Homo sapiens: one gene and its partner. The protein of the gene in region 1 purifies or fractionates together with the protein of each later gene. This does not show direct contact. Each region holds a gene or a part of one and is shown in the gene's direction. Other genes may lie near its edges.

What was found.
Region 2: the proteins of ZNF224 (region 1) and FBN2 purify together in Homo sapiens (affinity purification with mass spectrometry; one large-scale study listed by BioGRID and IntAct). This does not show direct contact.

Annotation. Positions count from the first base shown.
Region 1 is NC_000019.10:44,092,779-44,097,234, forward strand, and holds the start of ZNF224 (zinc finger protein 224), read left to right. Parts: upstream 1-1,582; 5' UTR 1,583-1,752; intron 1,753-3,564; 5' UTR 3,565-3,653; intron 3,654-4,456.
Region 2 is NC_000005.10:128,259,769-128,262,511, reverse strand, and holds part of FBN2 (fibrillin-2 precursor), read left to right. Parts: intron 1-604; coding exon 605-776; intron 777-2,682; coding exon 2,683-2,743.

The DNA of each region.
Region 1 (4,456 bases):
TGGGCGGATCACCTGAGGTAAGGAGTTCGAGACCAGCCTGACTAACCTGGTGAAACCCTGTCTCTACTAAATACAAAAAAATTAGCTGGGTGTGGTGGCGCATGGCTGTAATGCCAGCTACTTGGGAGGCTGAGGCAGAAGAATCGTTTTAACCCAGGAGGCGGGGGTTGCAGTGAGCTGAGATCGTGCCATTGCACTCCAGCCTGGGCATCAAGAGGGAAACCCCACCTCAAAACAAAACAAGACAAAGCAAACAAAAAAAACAAATCGTAGTAGAAACATAAAATATTATGAAGTACTGGTACATGCTGTGATGTGGATGAACTTTAAAAGCAGTATGCTGGCAGGGCGCGGTGGCTCACGCCTGTAATCCCAGCACTTTGGGAGGCCGAGGCGGGAGGATCACGAGGTCAAGAGATCGAGACCATCCTGGCTAACACGGTGAAACCCCGTCTCTACTAAAAATACAGAAAAATTAGCCAGGCGTGGTGGCACGCGCCTGTAGTCCCAGCTACTCGGGAGGCTGAGACAGGAGAATCGCTTGAACCCGGGAGGCGGAGGTTGCAGTGAGCTAAGATCGTGCCACTGCACTCCAGCCTGGCACTTTTTTTGAGATTCCGTCTCAAAAAAAAAAAAAAGAAGCAGGATGCTAAGTGAAAGGTGTCAGAAACAAAAGGTTCCATAATGTATAATTCCATTTATATGAAATGTCCACAATAGGTAATTCAATAGGACAGAGATTAGTGTTAGACAGTGACTGCTTAGTGGGTATGGGGTTTTTGGGGTGATGAAAATGTTTCCTAACTTTTTATTTGTACTACATATATCCTAAAATGGTGAATTTCACGTTTTGTGCATTACACCTCAATAGAGATGTTTTAAATAATAAAATACATTAAAATGTTTTGCATAGATAAAACAATAAAAAAAAACGTTTTTGTTGAGAAAATATTTGCGAGATAAAATGTTAATATCATGAATATAAGAACAGTGCTTGAAAAGTGAGGGATAAAACCAAAAACTCAATAAGAAAGTGGGCAAAACATCTGGACAATTTACAAAAAATGTAATAATGACACCTGAAAATATGCAAGAATATGCCATCTTTACAAGAGTTATAAATTAAAACTACATGCCATTTCTTACCACTGGCAAAACTTATTTGAAGAGTGTATCATCTCGCTTGTTCCCTTTCCAGTAACACTCCTGTCCTCACTAGAGGGGTTTAGACTTCAGGAATTCCTTTCTATACGGTATTTTCTCTTAGGCACCCAGGGAGAGGGAAGGACGACTCTCAGGGTAGAAGTCCACATTTCCCAACAGGCGCTCGGGGGTACGAGATTCGTTCCCCGTGGGAAGAGTGGTCAAGGGCTTCCCAGTAGTCGTCAACACTTCCCTTTGAGTGTAATGCTGCAGGAGTACAGTCCAGACCCTCAGTGGAATCGCGGTCGGTTTAGCTCCGGCAGTTGGGTCCCAGGGAATTCTGGGAAGTGTAGTCCAGACGCTCAGTGGAGTCGCGGTCAGTTTGGCTCCGGCTGGCGGGTCCCGGGGAATTCTGGGAAGTGGAGTCCAAACATTCGGTGGAGTCGCGGACACTTCCGCTCGGGGACTGAGGTTGCTGCAGTTTTTCCGCGATAGTTTGGGGCAGTTCCGCGCGTTGCAGGCCCTTCTGAATTTCCTGGACCTACGCATTGGATCCTCAAAGAACTGGTGATCGAATTAGGGGAAAAGGGGCCTCGTCGGAGAGTAGAGGTTTGGAGGGGCAAGGGCCGCTGTTTGCGTTCTCGTCCGTGGCACCTTCTTGGGCTTGGGTCTGTCCTCGCTTCCCGGGGGCATTGGTACTTGGTTGGGTCGCGTCTCACCTGGTTTCAGGGTTTCCGGGGCTCTGAGCTCGCCCACTCCGCCCCCTGCACCCCACGCGCGTGGCCACTTCTTCTCGATATAACGTTGGGGTGTTAATCTCCTTGGGTTTCCCGTTACTGTTCTTTAAAATGGGGACTTTAGGGCCATCCTAATGGAATCGTTTTGGGAACTGGAAGAGGTAACACAAATGAGAGCCTTAAAGCAGTCCCTGTCACTTGGTGACTGGTGGTCTCTTGTTAATTTCCCACGAAGGACCGGGTGGGGTCAGAGCTCCAGCTGCAGGGGCCTCGGCCCTTCTCCCTGATCCCTGCAGGACGCTGGATGATCCCGGAAGCCTTCTGACCTCTTTTTAGGAGAGCGAGGGTTGCGTCCACTTTCATGAAGGGAAAGGAGCATTTAACTTTTATGGGGGACGGCGACGCGGTCAAGGTGTTTCACAGCTTTCTCGTTCCCCAACCCGACCTTTCCAGAAGAGCTGCAGGGAGGGACTTCTTGGCTTCTGAGGGCAAAGCTCTACGTGAGTGGTCCTTGGCTCTTTGACCGAGATGCTCACCCCAACCGAGAGTGTATAGGTTGTGTCCTCGGGCATGGGGGTCGATAATAATTAAGTCTTAATTAGTAACTTCATTCTAAGGGCTTTATACAAATAAATTTACGCCACACCGTGGCTCTGTGGAGAAGTATTGCTTTTTTCTATTTTAAAAACGAAAGTGAGACACAGAGCGCATAGGCACCCGACTAGTGAGAGGTGGAGCTGGGGTTGGAACCTAAGCAGTCTGGGTCAGAGCCTGATTTGATCTTCTCTTGGGATACGTTGTCACTGAGGCAGAGGAACTAGTTGGACTTAGGTGGGGAAAGCAAGACTTAGGGGCTTGAAATTTTCTGAGTTTCTAAAAATGTTGTCAACTATTTTGTTTCAATCATTACAAATATTTTGTATTCTTATAGAACCATGTCATTGTACAGCATTCTATTTTTCTTTATTAAGAACAAAATGGGCCTGGCGCGGTGGCTTACGCCTGTAATCCCAGCACTTTGGGAGGTCCAGGCGGGCGGATCACGAGGTCAGGAGTTCGAGACCAGCCTGGCCAACATGGTGAAACCGCATCTCTACTAAAAAATAATTACAAAAATTAGCTGGGCGTGGTGGTGGGCGCCTGTAATCCCATCTACTCGGGAGGGTGAGGCAGGAGAATCGTTTGAATCTGGGAGGCGGAGGTTGCAGTGAGCGGAGATCTGCCATTGCACTCCAGTCTGGGCGACAGTGCGAGACTCCGTCTCAAAAAAAAAAAAAAAAGAACAAAATGTTTTTATTACCTACGAATCCATGAAGTAAAGGTAGCAACTGTTAAGCTCGTAATGTGTTTCTTTCTTTTTGTATATTTATAGGTTTATTTATGAACATTTACAAATTTTTATAATTTTTTTCTTAATATTTCCCCCTTATGTGTTTAACTATGGAAATTTCCAAATGCTGACAGACTAAACTAGTGAATTATCATGTTATATCATACTCATTAATCTCATTATTGTTATTATTTTTCCTATGACTGTTTCCTAAAATTATAAAACTTTTTATTTTCATGTCATTTGAAACCTATAGAAAAGTTGCAAAAGTAGCCTAAGAAATTCTTATTTACTCTTTACCCACGTTTGCCAAGTGTTTACATTTTTCCTGTTTGTTTTGTTGATGACCATCAGCTGAATACCACTAGAAACATACCTGTAACCAGAGACAGCTGATTATAGCTTTCTGCAGCAAGGAAGCCCACGTACCAGGGGCTGTCTTGGTAAGTAGAATTTAGGAAGACCTAGTATATGGTTTCACATAACATATTAGATAATTTCAGATTGTATACCAGATAATGTTATTTATTAAATATTAGATATCTATCCAAAGACTGCTAATAGTAGTTTATTGTATTATCTATTATACAGTGCTAGATAACATATTACCTAACTTCATGTTATGTACTCTGCAGTTCTATATTTAAATTTGTTCTATTTTTCACTTAAGGTTCTTACAAGTGTCCCCTACCCATCTGCCACCACCACCTGTGTTCACAGTCTAATTTTATGCATTGCCTTTAATTGTCACATTTCCATAATCTTTAATCTTGAGGATTCTACACCCTTTGTCTTTCTATGCTTGATATTTTTGAAGAGTATAGGCAAGTTATTTTGGAGAAAGGCATTCATTTGGAGTTGTGTCTGATGTAATTCATGTGCGGGTTCACATTATGCATTGTTGGTAGGGATACCACAGAAGTGGTGAATTGCGGGTTCAGATTATGCATTGTTGGTAGGGATACCACAGAAGTGCTGAAATGTCCTTTTCATTGCAACATAACAGGGTCCAAGTGATGTCAGTTTGTCTCTTCATTGGTGATCTCAACCTTGTCCACTTGGCCGAGACGCTGTCTTTCAGATTTCTCCACTATAAAGTTACTTAAAAAAAATTGAAAAGAATAAAGTTTCTTAGGAATAGATAACATTATTAGTGGGCATTCAGCTGTAAAATGACCTTCTCCATTTATTCTTTGTTCAACTACAAATATTCTATCAATATGGCCTTAGAATTGACTCTTAAGTT
Region 2 (2,743 bases), on another chromosome or scaffold:
AAATTCATACCTTACTTTTACCTTCTGGAGTTAATTATGCTCAGTACTTCAGTCTAACTAAGATTGAAAATTGGGAAAGCATGGGGCTCACCCTCAGAAGAATTTTGCTGTTTCAAAATAAGGGAAAAGTTTATCTATTGTGTGTTAAAGAATTATAGGGGATTGTGGCTCATCCCTGCAATCCCAGTACTTTGGGAGTCCGAGGTAGGAGAATCGCTTGAAGGCAGAAGTTGGAGACCAGCTAGGGCAACATAGCAAGACCCTATCTCTACAAAACATGAAAATTAAAAAAAATTAGTTGGATGTGGTGGTGTGTGCCGGTTGTCCCTGCTAATTTGGAGGCTGAGGCATGAGGAGCTCTTGAGCCCAGAAGTTTGAGGCTGCAGTGAGCAAGATCGTGCCACTGTACTCCAGCTTGGGAAACAGAGCAAGACCCTGTCTCTAAAAGAAAAATAAAAGAGTTGCAAAGAATATTAGGGTTTTATGTTTATGAGTTTAGTGTTTGCTCTGTTGGTTTCGTGTTTCTGAAGAGTCTGCTCTACCACTGGAAAACTATGGTCAAGTCAGTGATAAAGTCTAACAATACTTTGCTTTTTGCAAATAGCCACTGTGTCTCAGGAATGGGATTTAACAAGGGGCAGTACCTGTCACTGGATACAGAGGTCGATGAGGAAAATGCTCTGTCCCCAGAAGCATGCTACGAGTGCAAAATCAACGGCTATTCTAAGAAAGACAGCAGGCAGAAGAGAAGTATTCATGAACCTGATCCCACTGCTGTGAGTATATCCCACTCTGTGTTGCCACAAAATTTTATCCCTACGGAGTCATGTATACAGTGCAGTTCACGTCGTTTTCAGCCTCACTGAAGTTAATCATACCTTGAATTTAATGGATAAATTAATGGACCCAGTATGGAAAAGACAAGTAAATTAAAGTGATTGAATTATTAGATCAAAACACAAAGCTTGGGAGAAAAGACTTTAAGATTCACAGTTTCAGAGCATTTTCTCTTGTTGTAGTTTTTGATTTATGTGGGAGGGTATGTCCATCTCGGGAAGAGCTATTTTTACATGATTCAAAAAATGAAATTATTTTTAATTTGTTCAGTTCTGTTTTATAAATGTATAGCATACAAGGCTGATTTTAATTTTCACTAGGGAAACCAAGTAGGTCTCATATTCTTTGTTTTATTTTTAAGACAGTTGTTCCTTCATTAAGAAGTTTTGTCTTCCAAATCACTTGTATTCTTTAAGGAACTGAAGTTGGAAATTGCGAGCCACTGATATTTCCTTTCCCTAATTGCATTTTGGCAGTGTTTAAAGGGGTGGGCTGCAGACTACCTGGTTTTGAACGTAACTCCCTGGCCCTCCCTATCTGTTACCTCTGTTACATAGTTTGTGTTTATTTAACTTCTCTCAACCTCAGTTTTTTCACCTGTAAGATGGGAATAATAATACCTCTGAAGGCTGATGGAAGGGTTAATTGAATTGAAACATGTGAACTGCCTGGAACAATGCCTGACATATATATCACATGTGTTCAGTTCCTATGAATGATTAATATCTCATATCTAGAGATCTTGATGATTTTCCCAAAGATCTGAGACAGTATGAGGTCGTCACTCACCACTCTCTGCAGTTAATATGACTGAGAAATTACCCCACCAAAAAACCTAATCAACAACTGGCTGGCTGTGTGAATTGGACAACTTGCTTCAGTTTTTTGGGCCTCAGAATCTTTGTCTATATGACCTGACTTGTCTAGCCAAAAAGTTCATGATGCTATTTTATAATAATAAATAAGCCAGTGTTACATTTACCTTAAGTAGACTAAGATACCCAACTGATGTTTGACAGTTGAGATATTCATCAAGTTCCCAAACTACAAATCCAGAAGTTCTGCTTATAAACTTTCCCATTGGGGTACTAGGACATAATTCTGCCTGAACACTGATGGGCACTTCTGGGTCACCACTGCCAAGTCCTCACTTAACAGATGCCCAATCAAAGCATTGTGGTTTTTATCCTATCTTACTTTGATATATTTGTGCTCCTCCCAACCCTCTGAGCAAAAGTCAGACTTGGTTTATCTGGGCCCTGCCCCACTGGCTTTTACCAAAGATGCTGGTTTGAACTGGAGCCCTGAGAACTCTGCAGATCACTCACTCTGTGTACCTCTGATAGCTCCCAGTAAACTCACTCATCATTCACTTACCTTACAAATCAAAGCCCAGCTTTCAGACAGAAGATTCCCCTGGGCGCATTCCCTGCTGATGCCCAACAGCAGTACTTCTTATTTTGACTCCAGAAAAAAAAAAATCATTACCTAAATTTTAGTTTTTAAAAATTATTAATTAGCACAATATTTCATAAACTCATCAAAAAAAACTTGAAATGGGAACACTCTGTAAGCCCAGTCCTGTACCTTTAATTACCTTGTTAAGGCTGAGTGAGAAGTCCTAAAGATTTACAGGGTATTCTCGATGGAATTGGCCTTTTCTTCCAACTGACAAAAATGTACAATAGCCTCTTTCACAGCCACTGCTGGTAAGGAGAGTGCAGAAAGCGGGAGTGGGAAGCCACAGCCTGTCCTCGTGACCAAAGCCCCTGCAGCTGATCTCTTTCTAGTCCTCTGCTTGTGCTGTAGAAGCTTGTCCCAAATCATTTCCTGTTCTTCCTCCAGGTTGAACAGATCAGCCTAGAGAGTGTCGACATGGACAGCCCCGTCAACATGAAGTTCAACC